Homo sapiens: one gene and its partners. The protein of the gene in region 3 interacts with the protein of the main gene of each other region in a pairwise test. Each region holds a gene or a part of one and is shown on either strand. Other genes may lie near its edges. The genes, in order: UBE2N, UBE3A, NFX1 and LMNA.

Region 1 (4,628 bases), on a different chromosome or scaffold from region 3:
TGATCCAAGCAACCATCAGCTCTGACCTGGCATACTACAACAGCCTCCTAACCTGTTCTTCCTGCTTCTGACCTCACTACCTCCCTCGCAGGTCTATTATCCACAGACCCTTTAAAAGTCATAGTCCTGAGCCGGGTGCGGTGGCTCACGCCTGTAATCCCAGCACTTTGGGAGGCCGAGGCGGGTGGATCACCTCAGGTCAGGAGTTCGAGACCAGCCTGATCAACATGGAGAAATCCCATCTCTACTAAAAATACAAAATCAGCCGGGCATGGTGGCACGTGCCTGTAATCCCAGCTACTCGGGAGGCTGAGGCAGGAGAATCATTTGAAGCCAGGAGGCGGAGGTTGCAGTGAGCTGAGATCGTGCCATTGCACTCCAGCCTGGGTGACAGGGCGAGACTCCATCTCAAAAAAAGTCTGGGCATGGTGGCTCACACCTGTAATCCCAGCATTTTGGGAGGCCGAGGCGGGTGGATCGGCTCAGGTCAGGAGTTCGAGACCAGCCTGATCAACATGGAGAAATCCCACCTCTACTAAAAATATAAAATTAGCTAGGCATGGTGGCGCATGCCTGTAATCCCAGCTACTTGGGAGGCTGAGGCAGGAGAATCGCTTGAACCCCGGAGGTGGAGGTTGCGGTGAGCCCCGATCATGCCATTGCTCTCCAGCCTAGGCAAAAGAGCGAAGCTCCGTCTCAAAAAAAAAAAAAAAAAAAAAAAGTCATAGTCCTTGTAATGGGCCCCCAAAAGACGCTCTATATGATGCCCTCACTCCACCTACCTCTCTGACTTATCTTCAGCTGTTCTCTCTCCATCCCCTAACCTTCTCTGTTCCAGACAAAAATTAGCTTCCTTGTAGTTCTTCAACGTGCCAGGCATCCGCTCACCTCAAGGGCTTTGTACTTCCTCTTCCTCCCCAAGATATCCATATGGCTTGCTCCCTCAGCTCCTAAGATCTTCATGTTTTCTCAGTGAAGCCATCATAACTGAAATTGCAAACCCCATTCAACCCTACCCTGCACACTCCCTATCCCCACTCCCTGGCTTTATCTCCACAGCACTACTAACAAATCTCATTTCTACTTATTTTGTTCAGAATTTAAGCTCCATGAGAGGATGGATTTGAGTCTATTTTATGGACTGCTATATCCTCAGCATTTGGAACACTGCCTGGCACAATAGATATTCAATTAATATTTACTGAATTCTGAATCTATTTGATGTTATGAAAAGAGGGAAATAAACGATCAGAATTTCATCGTTAACATCATTAAGGCAGGGTTATTTTCAAGGCAGGATGTGCACATTATGGAAGGAAAACAAAAGGAGCCACTCAGGTATGGGGAAAAATAGTCTAACTTCTACTTATATTTATTTTTAACCAGAAAAATGTTCATATTTAAATAAGCTTTTAGGTATGAAAAACAATAAATGAGAACATTTTATTTACACTGCCTTCACCTAAAAAAAAATACATCATAAACTGTTTCATTCCACAAGCTACAGGGCATACGTTAAAAACAACAACAACAAATAACTTCTCTCTCAGCACAGTAATATACTGAAATAGTCATAAGATGTAAATACAAATCAAATGCTTCCCCAAAATGTGTTAATTAAACCCATGGCCATTTTAGGTAATGTCTCTGGTATTTTAAGACTAGTTTTTTGTTTTGATCATGGCGATGTAAGAGCAAGTGAGAAACTGACATGTTCTTTAGGTTCAAACTAAAACATTTTTAGAGTATTAAAAAGCTCAAGAGGCAATAATGAAGCCTCTGACCTTGGGAAGTCCTTTAACATGTGACCAGAACAAAAGAGGCTGGTCTTCATTTTTTAGGAAAAAAGTTAAGATATTAGGGATGAATAGCAGGAGTAGAAAAATGAGAAAATAACTGGATGGTAAAATTCCTTGAATTCTGGGCTCTCCTCACCTCCATCCTTTAATTTTACCCCAGGTCTTCATGTTTTTAGAAAGCCATAAATTGGGTGACTGGAAAAAAAAGAAAGCCAGGGCCCAAGAGTCCCAATCCACCACTCACCAGTTACACAAAGTAGTAGCAGCTCTGTATCTACTATAAAAAGCTACAGAAAGGCCTCCAAAAGCGTATCCCAAAATAGCTTCAAAATCACTCTCAATACACAGTGGCAGAGATAGGTATGGCATTTACTTTCTCATCTTCAGTTCACCCTCAAAATCAGATATTCTTTGTAAAGAATGTACATATTAAGCACATCATGTGACCTGATCAAGCCTAGATTTAATTGGAACACATTCTAAAATAAGCTTTCGTGTGTAGAAAACATTTTGAAATAGTCCTTATAATATATGCTGCTCTCAAGTTCTAATGGACTGACACAAAAACATGCATAATTATTTCACTAAACTGTTGGTTTCCCTAACAAACCCACAGCATAAACTGTGGGAGGGGAAAAAAGGAATAAAATCCAAACTAAATGAAACAAGTCTGAAATGGCAGCATCTGAAAAAGTCTCAACCACAGAAACTGATGTCAACTTTTTTCCTAAAAAGGCAAAAACTGGCTAGGAAATAAAATCTTTCCGGCCACTATTCAACACATGACTAACTAAAATACCTTCTGGTTTTACACTATTCTTTGGTGGAAAGACAGAGTACAGTATGATTTCTTTAAGTGAAGAAGTAAAGGGCTAAAATTCCTACTGTTTCACTTATCTATCTTTTTTTTTTTTTTTGAGACAAGTCTCGCTCTCTTGCCCAGGCTGCAGTGCAGTGGCACGATCTTGGCTCACTGCAACCTCTGCCTCCTGGGTCCAAGTGAGCACCTGGCTAATTTTTGTATTTTTAGCAGAGACAGGGTTTCACCATGTTAGCCAGGCAGGTCTCGAACTCCTGACTTAAAGTGATCTGCCCGCCTCAGCCTCCCAAAGTGCTGGGATTGTAAGCGTGAGGCACCACGCCCGGCCTTATCTATCTTTTGGCACAAATAATTTACATTGCAGGTGGGATGCCATGGTTCACACCTGTAATCCCTGCACTTTGGGAGGCTGAGGCAGGCAGGGGAATCACTTGAGGCTAGGAGTTCCAGACCAAGCTGGGCAAGCATAGTGAGACCCCATCACTACCAAAAAAAAAAAAAAAAAAAAGTTGACAAATGAGATCACATAGGAAGGCCATAGTTGTTTACAGAAAAACAGAATAACCCTTAAATGAATTTTGTGATTCTATTATGTTTAAAAGCAGTCCAAGGATTGAATCCCAAACAGAAGTGAGTTTAGGGCCATGCATAATAGAAAGCACTGTAGACTATGTTCAGGAAATTAGTTAATGTAGACTATGTTCAGGAAGTTAGTTACTAAAATAGACAGGTAAGTTGGTAAAGGAATAGGGTATGGATTTAAATGTCCACAAAATTAAGTCTAAAGGAAGGTATCTCATCTTATAGAACGCATACAATAGTTAATGCTACAAATATTTTTAAAAGGAATCAAATATCACATCAAATTGATCTAATTATCAACAGATCTACTGGGTCTTGAAGAGCAAACCCTAGACTCACACTACTGTAAACTATACTGTAGTTAGTCAATTATAACAACTGACATTCTGTCAACCTATCTCTATTAACCAGGACTCTTATTTTTAAGTTGAAAAATAATTTGTGCTCAGTACGAAGCAATGACAGGTCTTAGATGCTCTTCTGCAAGGCAATGATTGGAGTATGTACAGTAAAATTTTGGGGTAATAAACAGTATTCTTAGAAAAAGTGCTAATTTGTGTGTGAGAAAAGTTGGTCCAGTTAGTAACTATCTATATCCCAGTGCATCCTGTCTACAGTGATTAGGTTTTTTAGAATATTCTCTGAAACACAAAATTGCAATATATGACCAGTAATATCAACTGTAGATCTTTTAGCTCATCTCAAACAAGAGCTGTCTGATAACTCAGTAACTGCCAATTTCATTACTGAAAAATAAGTGTTAAAAAACTGAGTGATGCTTCAATGATACCTACTCTGTAAACTCCAACCTGTCACTACATCTTTAAGCGATTCTAAAATATTAACAAACAGGGTTCTGGACAAAGTTGTGTGTTATAGAAAAAAAATTTAAATAAAGAAAAAAATTATGAAAAATTTGTAAGATAAAACAAACGGGCTCCTTTTTTGGGATCACTAATAAAGCAAGTCAATTCTTCATTATGTACACAACTGTAAGTTACTTATGAGAATCTGCAAGTTCACCCTCTATATATATAAGTGGGCATTTTTATTTATCACTTTTTTTGTAGAGATGGGTTTCTCTATGTTGCCCAGGCTGGTCTCCTGCCTCAAGCAATCTTCCCGCCCTGGCCTCCCAAAGCAATGGGATGACAGACGTGAGCCACCACACTTGGCCCAATAAGTGAGCATTTAAAAAATGTTACCACCAGCCTGGGCAACATAGCAAGACCCCATCTCTGCAAACCAAAAAACTAAAAAAATTAGCTGGGCATGCTGGCATATGACTATAGTCCTAGCGTACTTGGGAGGTTGAGGTGGGAGTACTGCCTGAGCCCAGGAGTTCAAGGTTACAGTTAGCTGTGATCATACCACTGCACCCCAGCCTGGGCGATAGTGAGACCTTGTCTCTTAAAAACAAAACAAAA
Region 2 (4,628 bases), on a different chromosome or scaffold from region 3:
CATAGCAAAATTTTTCATCCCAAGCTCTTGAAATGATGTTTCCAAATGTCCATTTTCTTAAATGACTGCTAGTTATGTTCTCCAATCATGTTACACATATTTTGTTTAGACTTATAATTGTGTAGGTCTAAATGTAGAAACATTACATTATGTACATATGCAGCTGCTGAAAGAAAATTAGTTTTCTAATTTTTAGATCGGGGTGAAGACAAACTTTTAGAAGTGATCTTTCGGTAAAATACTGGATGAAGTCTTAGGTGCTCTTTTTATGTTGGTTCAGGACAAAAGTTTTTTGACTGCTTTTTGAGTTTTCCCCTCACTGCCAAATGTAAGGATAAAATGTAGTAACAAGACATCTTGGTATGTATAGTGGTAATATCTTTGGAATTAGACCCTAATTTTAATTCTGGCCTTATTAATCTTGGTAAGCCACAGTTTTGTCATCTGTAAAATGGGTTGGTGAAACTTCCCCAGAGTTGTGAGGCTTAAAGTATGTAAAACGCCTAACACGTAGGCACTCAATAAGTATTACCTTAGAAATCTTCCTATCCAGTTTTTCTGAATGGTCTGGAAGCACCTTGTATGTAGTGGACTACAGCATGTTATCCTTTATGTTGTTTATTTCTTTTCTCATTAGCTATGAACTTTTTAAGGCCAGGAATTCCTAGTGTTTACCAGAGAATGTGTTACTAGATGTCTTAGTCTGTTCTGGCTGCTATTACAAAACACCACAGACAGCATGGCTTATAAACAACAGAAGTTTATTTCTCACGGTTCTGGGGGCTGAGAAGTCCAAGATCAAGGTACCAACAAATTTGACATCTTAGTGAGGGCCCTCTTCCCTTGTTCATAGATAGCTAGCTGTCTTTTCACCATTACCTCATGTAGTAGAAGAGTAGACGGGGCTCTATAGGGCCTCTTTTATAGAGGCATTAATTCCATTAATGATGGCAAAGCTTCCCAAAGGCCCCACCTCTTAATACTATCACCTTGGAGGTTAGGCTTTCAACATGAATTTTGGGGGACACATTCAGACCACAGCACTAGAGCAGGCATGAATTGGTTATTGGTAAATCAGTAAATGATCAACTAACATTTATTAGGTTCCTCCTGTGGCTTCTATGAGCTGAGCTAAGTACAGGACCCACAAAGACAAGAAAGATGTCTGTCTTTTTTGAATGCTTATAGTTGAGTGACTTTCTCACATTTGTGTGTGTGTGTGTGTGTGTGTGTGTGTAAAACCCTATCACATAATGGAACTTCATTTTCCCATGCCCTTCCAATCTAAGAGCAGTTCTATGGACTCAATACCTCCTACCCACCAGCTGCTACTGTAAAGATTTACTTTTTTACTCCTTTTAAAAAGTTCAACCCTCTGGCACATGCATTACTTCATTCCTTGGTCCCAGCCCACCACCCCAGTATCTGGCACGTAGTGTATTAGTATTTGTGTGTGTGTGTGTGTGTGTGTGTGTGTGTGTGTGTGTGTGTGTGTGTGTATGTATATAGAATTTAAAATTTTTACTCCGGCAGTTGTCTTCAAATACTCTAATTTTGGGGGGCATGATTATCATTCTGTCTTCTGGCAGTACATGGATAGATGCTACCTGAGTAGGATTGTCTATGAGGTCAGCTGCTCCAGTCATTTTATACAAGAGGAAATTGGAGTGCAAAGCTTTAAAATGATTTTCTTAAAGTCACCCAGGTGTCAGAACCAGAACCAGAGTCCATGTCTCTAGTTCAGGACTCTGCACACATTGGCACATGTTCTGTCCTACCTTTTGGGATGAATAGTTATACTTGCTTTGTGATTACTCACCCACCTTTTTGGAGACATATGAGTGTTTTGTACACTATTAATAGAAGGCAGCCTTCACAAAATGCCATCTGCAGATCTGTTATTTCTTCTAATAAAGGAAATGATGTAAAATTACCTTAAATAGAAATAGTGTTAATTCTTCTGGAGACATATTCCATAATCCAAACACGAAATGTTTGAAATACTTGAAGATGCCATATAAATAAGTCCTTTGTAAAAAGATAATATTAAAAATTTTTGTTTTATAGAGATGGGGGTCTCACTGTGTTGCCCAGGCTGGTCTTGAACTCCTCAGCTTTTACTTTAGCTTCCCAGTGTGTTGGGATTACAGGCATGAGCCACAATACCTGGCCAAGTCCTTTTTTTTAATCAAATGACTTATTAATACACAGTTTCTTTGCCAGCTTTTGTTTTCATTTGCTATCAAAAATGTTGCTTAGTAGTGCTTTGATCTGAGTTATCAATAACAGGTAAATGCCATTATGGATAATAATTCAAAAAGAAGCTTATTAATTATTAGGCCTATCTGAGAGTGAAGTAAAGTTAGCATTTTCTTTTTGTTTATTTTACTTATTGTTTATTTGTTTAGAGACAGGGTCTCGCTGTGTTGCCCAAGTTGGAGTGCAGTGGTGCTGTCATAACTCATTGCAGTCTCAGGCTGGAGTGATCCTCCCATCTCACCCTCCTGAGTAGGTGGGATTAGCATATGCCACCATGCCTGGCTAATTTTTTTATTTTTTAATTTTTTTGTGGAGATGGGGTCTTGCCGTGTTCAGGTTGGTTTCAAACTCCTGGTCTCAAGCGGCTTGGCCTCCCAAGGTGCTAGGATTACAGGTGTGAGCTACCATGCCCAGCTGAGCATTTTTAAAAAATACTGGTCTTTGTACATGAGTCGTTACTATTTGATTCTAAGCCTTATGACTGATATCCCTAAAAATTATTTATAAAATTTTAAGTGCATCAGAGTCATTGAAATGGAATGAGCACTGTCTTTTGGTCTTGAGGTTGTTTTAACTAGCTTCGTAATGGTCATGAGCAGGTTATTTAGCTTTTGAAGCCTTCGTTCCTTCTTTTGTCAAATGAAAGTGATAGTTGCTTTGTTTTAAAAGAGTATGCTTTTCAAACGTGATCATTCTTGAAAATGTAGATTAAGAGCTTTTTAGAGGCCAAGTGCCATGGCTCACGCCTGTCATCCCAGCACTTTGGGAAGCCGAGGCGGGCGGATCACGAGATCAGGAGATCGAGACCATCCTGGCCAACACGGTGAAACCTCATCTCTACTAAAATACAAAAAAAAAATTAGCCGGACGTGGTGGCGCATGCCTGTAGTCCCAACTACTCAGGAGGCTGAGGCAGGGGAAACGCTTGAACACGGGAGGCGGAGGTTGCAGTGAGCCAAGATCATGCTACTGCCTGGCGACAGAGTGAGACTGCCTCTCAAAGAAAAAAAAAAAAACTTTTTAGAAACGTTGTTTTGGGGAATTTTTAGTGTGTGAATTCATTTTAAATATGTGAACTCCATTTGACATGGACAATGGATCTTAATAGTTTGTGATACATTATTCAGTGTATTAATCAAAAGTCAAATCTCTTTTGTAATTTGCTGTACCAGACCTGTTGTGTTAATCTGATCAATGGCAAGTGAATCATAAGATTGACCTGAAAGGAAAAGATATTTTTAGGGGACATAGAATCATATTGGATAAGATTATTCCTATAGTTCATTTTCAGGAAATCTGAACAGGAATCTCGTGTAAGGAATCACATGTGAATTATAGAAGAGAGTCTGATGTAAGACTTTATTTATTAAGGTCTGCATCTGTGTTTCAAGTAAGAGCATAGAGGTAGTATATGAGCCCTGAACACTCATACAAGTAGGATAAAATTTTTCTTAAAACTGTTGGCTGGACAGTGTAGAGTCTAATGCTGTGACTCTTAACAGTTTTGTGTGTTCCAGAAGTTCATCTCCTCAGGATCAATTGAGGTTAGTCTAGCACAGACTTTAGTTATAGAAACCAAACATGAGAAAAATTTTTTGACCCATGTCTTCGTAGCATGCAGGCTTGGTAGCTCTTTCCTAGTTCTGGATGTGTGCCCGTTGTATATACTTTCAGCAATTCAGGATGTTCCTTTTCATATTTAAGACAAGCACTCTTGCATACAAATTACATAGCTGTGGGCTGAATGAAGATGCTACCATTGCTGTACTTCTACACAGGTTCTTTTCATGTAATGAAATCAGAAGGGATGGCTTTTCCATTTCAAGCTTCTGTTAATAAGTAGTCTTAGAATTGCCTTTGTGTACTGTAGCCAACACCCCAACTCATATATTTTTATAATCTTTGTGATGCAGAATAAATTCTGAAACTTTCCACCTCCTAATTAAATATAGAAATACTGAAAACAATAAAGCACCATGTATTCACTATGGACATATGTCACATTTTGTCACTTTCTTGCACTCTTGTAATCCCTCTCTAAAGCTCATGTTAAACTCATGTTCTTTATTTTCTTCTCAGATGATTCCTTTGGCACTGCATGTAACAGTACAGGAATTTCTTCCTTTCGTACTTCCAACAAATACTTTTTTGTCTCTTAACAGATGTGAACCATAATGCTGTTCTTTAGAAAGCAAAGGATGAAGTGCACAGCAGTGTTTTCTATATAAAGCTAATGGGTCATAAGGGGAAATATGGGTTATTTCCAGCTTGTTAATTGTCTTAATACATTTTTCCTAAGAATTCTATTGTGCCTCTGTGGTTATATGCACCAATATTGATAATCTTACAGCGTGCCATAAATAAGGATT
Region 3 (4,628 bases):
GATGGCTGGGTTTAAGATAACATGTGTGATTCCGGATATGGTATACCAATTCATTATTTGGTATTTCAGACTAAAAAATTCATTTGTGCTCCTAAAGATTTTGATCAGTTTGGGTAAAGCAAGCAATGTCTGTCTGATGTTTCAGGCATTTTCAGGAGGACAAATAACTGGGACAACTGAGGCTATGACTTAGTGGCATAAAGTTGGTTTCAGGCTAAAAGTTTGGTTTGTCCAAATAAAGCCCAATAGTCCCTCAACTCTCAGAGCAATCACAGTGATGGTGTAAAGAGCCTCTTTGAATGCGTGATTGCATACCTAGTGACCATACAATCAGAGATCTGGTCATAATGAAACACTTTATACAGACAGGAATAGACAAGGGATTTCTGACACACTCATGCTTTGGATGTGTCAGTACAAGACAGTATGTGAGACTGTGATTCTGCCAGGCAGAGGGGAACGGGCATGATTTATCTGCTGGCAAATAAGTCTCCACTATACCTAATCATTCTTTTATCTAAGTGCATCATGATCTTCTTAGTCCTGGACGTCAAAATAGTCAATTATTGGCTCCTTGGTTATTTTCTGTAAATTACTGCTCCCAGGATTCCTGAAAAACAAACAAAGAATGATCAGTCTTTTCTTCTTTGGGGGAAACAGATACAGGACTTCAGAAAGTTAAGGATCAGCTGATTTACCATTTGTGAATCTTAAACATTTATTTTATTTTTATTTTAGTCTTACTTTTTTTCCTTCTGCCCTTTGTGAGCAATTTTTTTAACTTTTGTGTTTCCTTCTAGATTTACATATTACATGGGGAATTTTATTCTGTGAGATAACAAATTCTCTATTTACACTTTACAGTTTAGAGGTAACCTTTCACAATCTATTTACAGGATTTCATATATGATGATGATTTTACTCTGCCTTCACAGTTCAATGAATGCTCAGTTAACAGCTTAAGCCAAGCGAGCATCTCACTTGTGAAGTTTTGATAGTGGGACAAACATGAGCTGGTGATTTTGAAATTTGGTAATGGGCACATGGGCATTTATGATAGTAATACTATTCTCTCTACTCTAAAACATTTCCATAATAGAGTTTTATACAAAAATAAAGCAAGCCAAGGGTTTTTAAAAAGATAGCATGGGATGGCCAGGTGTGGTGGCTCACGCCTGTAATCTCAGCACTTTGGGAGGCCAAGGCGGACGGATCACGAGGTCAGGAGATTGAGACCATCCTAACACATGGTGAAACCCCGTTTCTACTAAAAATACAAAAAATTAGCCGGGCGTGGTGGCAGGCGCCTGTAGTCCCAGCTACTCAGGAGGCTGAGGCAGGAGAATGGCATGAACCCGGGAGGCGGAGCTTGCAGTGAGCTGAGATCGCGCCACTGCACTCCAGCCTGGGCGGCAGAGCGAGACTCCATCTCAAAAAAAAAGAAAAAAAGAAAAAAGATAGCATGGGATAAACGGGCCAATAACTCCACATGGTTGTGTCTAAGCAGGACTGGACCCGACTCTGGCAGTTTCTGAGAAAACCCCTCATGTTTCCAAAGTGACCGCCCATATGGATTTGCAGACTGTGCTGACCAGAACCTAGGACACCTGGCTCCCAGGAGTGGAGAGGGGCTGGTCCTGGGGACCAGGACGCTCTTGGCTGAGTCTGAGCTCAATGGGCAACACCTAGCTGTCTTCTTGTCCAGTCCCACAGGAACACTAAGTGCTGTGACCTTCATGGTGACCTTGTGAACTGCCGTAACCACCCTTCAGAGGTTTTGTGCAGGAATCACAGAGGAGGTACTGCTAGGACTTGTCTGTGGAAAGCCAGAACAGGAGTAGGCACCCCTCTCCTTCTGGGCTTTGAAGTAACTTTTAGCCACACTGCCTTGGTTACACTAGGGCAGCAGAGAAGGAGCACCATCCTGCCTTCCCTTCCTCTCCCTGACAAGTGACAAACAACTGGGACAACTGGGGCTATGACCAAGTGCTCTAAAGTTGGTTTCAGCCCACAATTCTGGTTTCTCCAAATAAAGCCCAACAGTCACCCAACTCTCAGAGCTCCTTCCCTGCTCCTGTCTGAGAAAACATCTGGCAGACTTGCCCCTTGCCAACTTGGTTTTCTTTTCTCTTTAAATCATGAATATGTTTGTTATAAAAATTATTCAAACCATATAGAAGCAGACAGAGCAAAACAAGAAAGTACTATCCACCCCCGTCACCGGCAATTCTCACCCCCACACCCACTTGCATCTTCAGAGTAACTATTCTTTTTTTTTTGAGATGGAGTCTGTCTCTCTGTCGCCCAGGGTGGAGTGCAGTGGTGCGATCTCGGCTCACTGCAACCTCTGCCTCCAAGGTTCAAGTGATTCTCTTGCCTCAGTCTCCCAAGTAGCTGTGTTTACAGGTGCCCGCCACCACACCCGGCTACTTTTTTATATTTTTAGTAGAGATGGGTTTTCACCTTGTTGGCCAGGCTGGTCTCGAACTCCTGACCTTAAGTGATCCACCCGCCTTGGCCTCCCAAAGTGCTGGGATTACAGGCGTGAGCCACCGCGCCCGGCCCAGAGTAACTATTCCTAACTACACGATGTTTCAGTCTTAAACTATCTGGTATGACAGACTGAATCCACTTCCCAGTGTCACCATCTACACCATGGAAATTATGTCCAGTGACTGCTCTCTCTAGAATCAAGCACTACAAACAACAAACTTAGGACCCCTCTGGTGGGAACAAACGTGTCTGATACCCTAACTAAACATTACATATTTGAACATGGTACCCCAAGGCCAGGCCTGAGGAGGCCACCAATGGCTGGTGCAGCTCAGGACAATTCAGCCCCTGCTAGCTTTTCTGGACAGACAGGTCCCCTTGGAAAGCAGCTGGAGAATCTTACTTGTCTGACTGATGTCTGTGATGAGGAATCGGTGGTGGAGGCCGTGCCTGCATTTCCCTTTCAAGCACACCTGTCAGCGTGGTAGGAGGACAAACGGACTTCCCCCTGATAAAAGTCAAAACACCAAGCATTGAAAAGTGAGAATTGTTTGTGGAGATGGACAGAAAGCTAGAAACTCAGCCCTTGATTTTGGCACTATGACACTACTGAGCACTCTCTGGTATGAACTGTCTGCTCTCAGACATGGCCACCTGCATTTAACCCCCTGTCCCTTCCACCCACCTATGCCAGGCCCGTGGCTTGCTTCATGTCAGACTTGTTTTCTTCACTGGCAAGTTCTTCCTATTCCCAGGTTCTGAGAGTGATCCTAGGTCCTCCCTGTCCCCTCCTGGTCACATTATTGCTTCAGTTTCCTCTGATGGCAAAAACACCATTCACAGGGGATGCCTCGAACCAGAGTCCAGCATTCTTTCTGTTTTCCCCATGCCAAGAGGACAGAGCCAAGGAGAGGACAGACAGAGGAACAGGAGACAGAAGGAGAAAAGAGCAGATATGATGGGCAGGCCCCCTTGCCTGAAGAAATGCTGCTTCCAGCATCTGCTATGACTGTAGGCAGATGTGACACTTGTGCATTTTGAGTGCATCTGCCCTGTGGGTCGAGGCATAGGTTTTGCTCTTTGGCTCAGGCCTTTAGATTATCTGGGAAGTGCCAGAGAAGCAGATTTTCCTTCTACTTTTCCAAGAGGGAGAGTGGTAGTAAGAAAGACAAGTATTGACAGACCCTGCTTCTTGGGTCCAGTTTGCCCTGCTTAGGAGTTCTTCCTCTGACGGCGGGATTGACCTACCTGATGGCAGTGACCACCACATTGCGCTTCGGTTCACTGTCATAGCTCACGCTCTCCAGGCCATAAACTTGGGCCAAGTCATGGATGATCCGGCGGTGGTCTCTGTTCATGGGAGGGAAGCTGTGGCTTTTCTTACTATTCTTTCCCTGTATTGAGGGAAAAGATGACTGATTGATCATATCATTCTGAAAACAAAATGCTTACAACTAATCTTACCACACAAGAATTGCAGGGATCAATAAGAGGTGATTTTAGAGGCCCACAGCATAGAGCATTTTACTAACTGCCAAGCAAGCCTGGAGGGGTTTGGGAAGATGGGCACTGATGCACTTCTTTCACCTACTCTGTGAGCCACAACAGTCGCAGCTGGACAGGGTTAGGGACAAAGGGTAAGTGAACTGCGACTTAGGTAGACAGCATAATGGTTCTTCCTGATGGGTTCCATAACTGGGGAGTGGGTGATATTCCCCAAAAATGACTAAAGACTTACAAAACAAGAAAATATTATTTCCTTTAAAAGTATGTTCTACTTTAAAAATCGTGAGTATTCAGATACAGACACACAAGCAGAGAAACACATCTGTTGGGGTTTCTTAATTAGGAGAGGAATAATGCATTCCATTTTCTCCTTCATGTTAATATTCTGCTGGGAAGTGGTAACAGAAGGGAGGAAAGGAGGGGAATGGGAAGAGGGTAAGGAGACTGGGAAGGAAAACCACCAGCATTAGATACAGGGGCTAAAGCAACCATCTTGTCCTTACTCACCGTCCCCCCTGATGGAAGGGGGAGGAAGCCAATGCAGCGCTGGGGGCTTCTGACTAAACTCAAGACTTTTCCACTTAAAGCTACCTCCGTGACATCCCTGGCCGCCTCCAGGACAGGGGTCT
Region 4 (3,500 bases), on a different chromosome or scaffold from region 3:
CGAGCATGTGGCACGTGCCTATAGTCCCAGCTTCTTGGGAGGCTGAGGTGGGAGGATCACTTGAGCCTGGGAGGTGGAGATTGCAGTAAGCCAAGATCATGCCACTGCACTCCAGCCTGGGCCAGGGAGCGAGACTGTCAAAAAAAAAAAAAAAAAAAAAAAAAGAATGGATTTGGTGGTGGAGGGTTGGAGAGGTAACACCAGGAGATACCCTCAGATAAAGCCCAGGGCCCATGCATCCTCAAAGGTCTCCAACCCCATTAACCTAATGGGTCTGCCAAAAGGCACAGCTTCCTTTCAATCCGGGTGGACAATTCCCATGACAAGTCTCAAGATAGTCTCAAGACAAGAATCACCAGCCTCCCAGAGCTCTGACCGTCTCACGATTGAGGGGCTGGCAGGGGTCCTGGGTCCAGGTATAGGCTGGAGCAAAGGCTATCGATCATATGCTAACAGGCCCTGCAGGACAGCAGAGTTTTGTTTTGTTTTTTTCTTTTTCAGAGACAGGGTCTTTCTCTCTCCCAGGCTAGAGTGCAGTAGTGCAGTCATAGCTCACAATAGCCTCAAACTCCTGGCTTCAGGTGATCCTCCCGCCTCAGCTTCCCAAGCAGCTGGACTACAGGTGTTGACCGGCTAATTTTTTTGTACAGAAGGGGGTCTTGCTATGTTGCCCAGACTGGTCTCAAACTCCTGGCCTCAAGTGATCCTCCTGCCTTAGCCTCCCAAAGCACTGGGATTACAGGCATGAGCCACGAAGTATGGCCATAGAGCACTAAGGTGTCACTGGCCCCAGAGCAGAGTTTCCAGGCTGCAGAAGTGAGCCTCAGCTACCTGACTTCACCTTACCTCACCCTCTAGATCCTCCCTCCAACCTGTCCCCCAAGCTAGAGAAGTGAGGCTTAATGGTAAGAGCACACCCAGCTGGAAGTCATAAGGCCTGTGATCAAGTGCTGACCCCTTTATTGTGTGACATGGGACAAGCATCTGTGCCTCTGTGGCCTTTGCTGTTCTTGTCTTGATCAGAGCCTACATGAACTGGAGCCTGCATCTCCCTGCCTGTCCACACTGGGGCTGCAACAGTGGGCAATCCAGGAAGTTGTCAAGCACCAGGGCCTTTTTGGAGTGGAAGTAGCGCTTCTGCTTTGTGGGCCTCGGATCTCCCCACTTCTGACTCAGCCTTCCTCCATCAGTTTCACATGGGAAGGCACAGACCCTGGCACTATCCTGCAGCCCAATCCATAACTCTGAACTCAACTCTGGATTCTAATTACTTGTGCATGTTACCTGTCCAGAGAGAGCTATGTGTCCAGACACCACCAGAGGGTCTCAGGAAGGAGCCAGGCAAGGGACTCCAGGATGCAATGGGGAGGGGGGCAGAAGAGGTAGACATTCAGACCACCACTCCTCCCTTTAAGACAACTGCTGTCTCCACCCTGTCTCCTGCTGTCTTCTGTAAAGCCACCAGGGTGGGAGGGAGGGGGGCAGCATCTGAGTCATCCACCCAGCTGCCTTGCCTGGGGTGGGGCCCAGCTGCAAGCCTGGACTCCAGACAGGCTTCCCTGGTGCTTACAACCTTCCCATTCTGCCTGCACTTGGGTATCCAAATCCCTTGGGCTACAGACTAGAAAGAGACAGAGAAGGGGCAGGGGGTACCAGGTGCGGTAGCTCATGCCTATACATCCCAGCACTTTGGGAGGCCAAGGCCAAGGCAGGTGGATTACTTGAGCCTAGGAGTTCGAGACCAGCTTGGGCAACACGGTGAAACCCCATCTCTACAAAATATATAAAAATTAGTGGCCGGGTACGGTGGCTCACACCTGTAATCCCAGCACTTTGGGAGGCCAAGGTGGACGGATCACGAGGTCAAGAGATCAAGACCATCCTGGCCAACATGGTGAAACCCCAACTCTACTAAAAATACAAAAATTAACTGGGCGTGATGGCATGTGCCTGTAGTCCCAGCTACTCGGGAGGCTGAGGCAGGAGAATCGCTTGAACCTGGGAGGTGGAGGTTGCAATGAGCCGAGATCGCACCACTGCACTCCAGCCTGGCAACAGAACAAGACTCCGTCTCAAAAAAAAAAAAAGAAAAAAAAAATTAGCTGGGCATGGTGGCACACACTTGTAATCCCAGCTACTCAGGAGGCTGAGGTGGGAGAATCACCAGAGCCTGTGAGGCTGACGTTGCAGTGAGCTGTGATCATGCCACTGCACCCCAGCCTGGGCAACAGAACAAGACCCTGTCTCAAAAAAAGAAGAGAGAGAGAGTATTGGCGAAAGGGGTTTCTTCTTGGAGCCTATAATCCAGCCCAACAGAAGGTCCCCCAAACTCCTGAGTGTGGTTGAGGTACCCAGGCTGGGTCAAAAATTGCTACAGGGTCTTAAAAACAACTTTCCATCCCAACTCCAAATCTGGCCCTGAACTCTGAGCTCTAATTAAACATTAAACCAGACAACACCTTCTCTCTAGGCTTTGGTGGGAGGGGTTGGGAAAATGCCTTTTTTCCTCTCCCAAATTCTTTACTCTACCCACTTCTCTACCTCACTCTGAGCACAGCAGACCCAGCAGGGAGTAACCAATCCTGGCTCCTCCTACTGTGGGCATAGAAGAGGACAGACACCCCAGTCTGAGTCCCCTTTGTCTTCACCCCACTTTCTATCAGCTTGGGATCCAGGTGTGCAAATCCACCTCTCTTTTCCGGAAGCCCAGCCTTTCCAGCCAGGATCAGTGGGGGAGAACAGAGGGAGGTGGCTAAATATAACAAGTACACACACCACCTCCGCCCTGCCCCACATGCGCACATACCCGCCTGGTGTCCCAGGCCTGGACAGCTGCACTAGGAGGCAGAGGAGACAAACTGGCGTGGCTGGGTGAGCAAGAGAATATCGAATCCACTCAATCTGTTTCTCGATCAAAGTTTTGACCAGAAAACTGCTAAAACTGCTAAAAATGTCCTTCACAGGGCTTTGGTAGATGAGTGGACTAGTTTAGAATGCAACGAATTCTCTGGGTCTCCCCTTCCTTGCTTCCTATCTGTCTTGCTAACTAAATTGTTCATATCACTAGTAGAAAAAAGACAGGCCTGGCGTCAGGCCTGGTGGCTTATGCCTGTAATCCCAGTGCTTCCGGAGGCCGAGGCAGGAGGATTGCTTGAGGCCAAAACTTCGGAACCAGCTGAGCAACATAGCAAGTTTCCATCTTTACAAACAAAAAGCAAAAAAAAAAAAAAAAAAAAAAAAATTAGCCAAGCGTGGTGGTGCCTGCCCTTAGTCTCAGCTATTCCGGAAGGTGAGACGGTAGGATCGCTTGAGCCCAGGAGGAGTTCCAGGCTGCAGCAAGTTATGATTGTACCATTGCACTCTAGCCTGAGCAACAGGGCAAGGCCCTGTCTCTGAAAAATATAATAAAAATAAAGAAAAGGACAGGTGTGGTCTCTTTCAGCAGAATGAACCCAGGAGTTCAAGACTGTGGGCAACATGGCAAAACCCCATCTCTACAA

Evidence for each region.
Region 1: the proteins of NFX1 (region 3) and UBE2N interact in a two-hybrid assay, tested with the Homo sapiens proteins (one large-scale study listed by BioGRID and IntAct).
Region 2: the proteins of NFX1 (region 3) and UBE3A interact in a two-hybrid assay, tested with the Homo sapiens proteins (one study listed by BioGRID).
Region 4: the proteins of NFX1 (region 3) and LMNA interact in binary tests that used the Homo sapiens proteins (3 or more experiments, as listed by UniProt).

Annotation. Positions count from the first base shown.
Region 1 is NC_000012.12:93,413,751-93,418,378, forward strand, and holds part of UBE2N (ubiquitin-conjugating enzyme E2 N), read right to left. Parts: intron 1-4,628. UniProt on the Homo sapiens protein: The UBE2V1-UBE2N and UBE2V2-UBE2N heterodimers catalyze the synthesis of non-canonical 'Lys-63'-linked polyubiquitin chains. This type of polyubiquitination does not lead to protein degradation by the proteasome.
Region 2 is NC_000015.10:25,431,841-25,436,468, reverse strand, and holds part of UBE3A (ubiquitin-protein ligase E3A), read left to right. Parts: intron 1-4,628. UniProt on the Homo sapiens protein: E3 ubiquitin-protein ligase which accepts ubiquitin from an E2 ubiquitin-conjugating enzyme in the form of a thioester and transfers it to its substrates.
Region 3 is NC_000009.12:33,365,888-33,370,515, reverse strand, and holds part of NFX1 (transcriptional repressor NF-X1), read right to left. Parts: intron 3,888-4,628; coding exon 3,742-3,887; intron 3,002-3,741; coding exon 2,897-3,001; intron 611-2,896; coding exon 538-610; 3' UTR 1-537. UniProt on the Homo sapiens protein: Binds to the X-box motif of MHC class II genes and represses their expression. May play an important role in regulating the duration of an inflammatory response by limiting the period in which MHC class II molecules are induced by interferon-gamma.
Region 4 is NC_000001.11:156,117,711-156,121,210, reverse strand, and holds part of LMNA (lamin), read right to left. Parts: intron 1-3,500.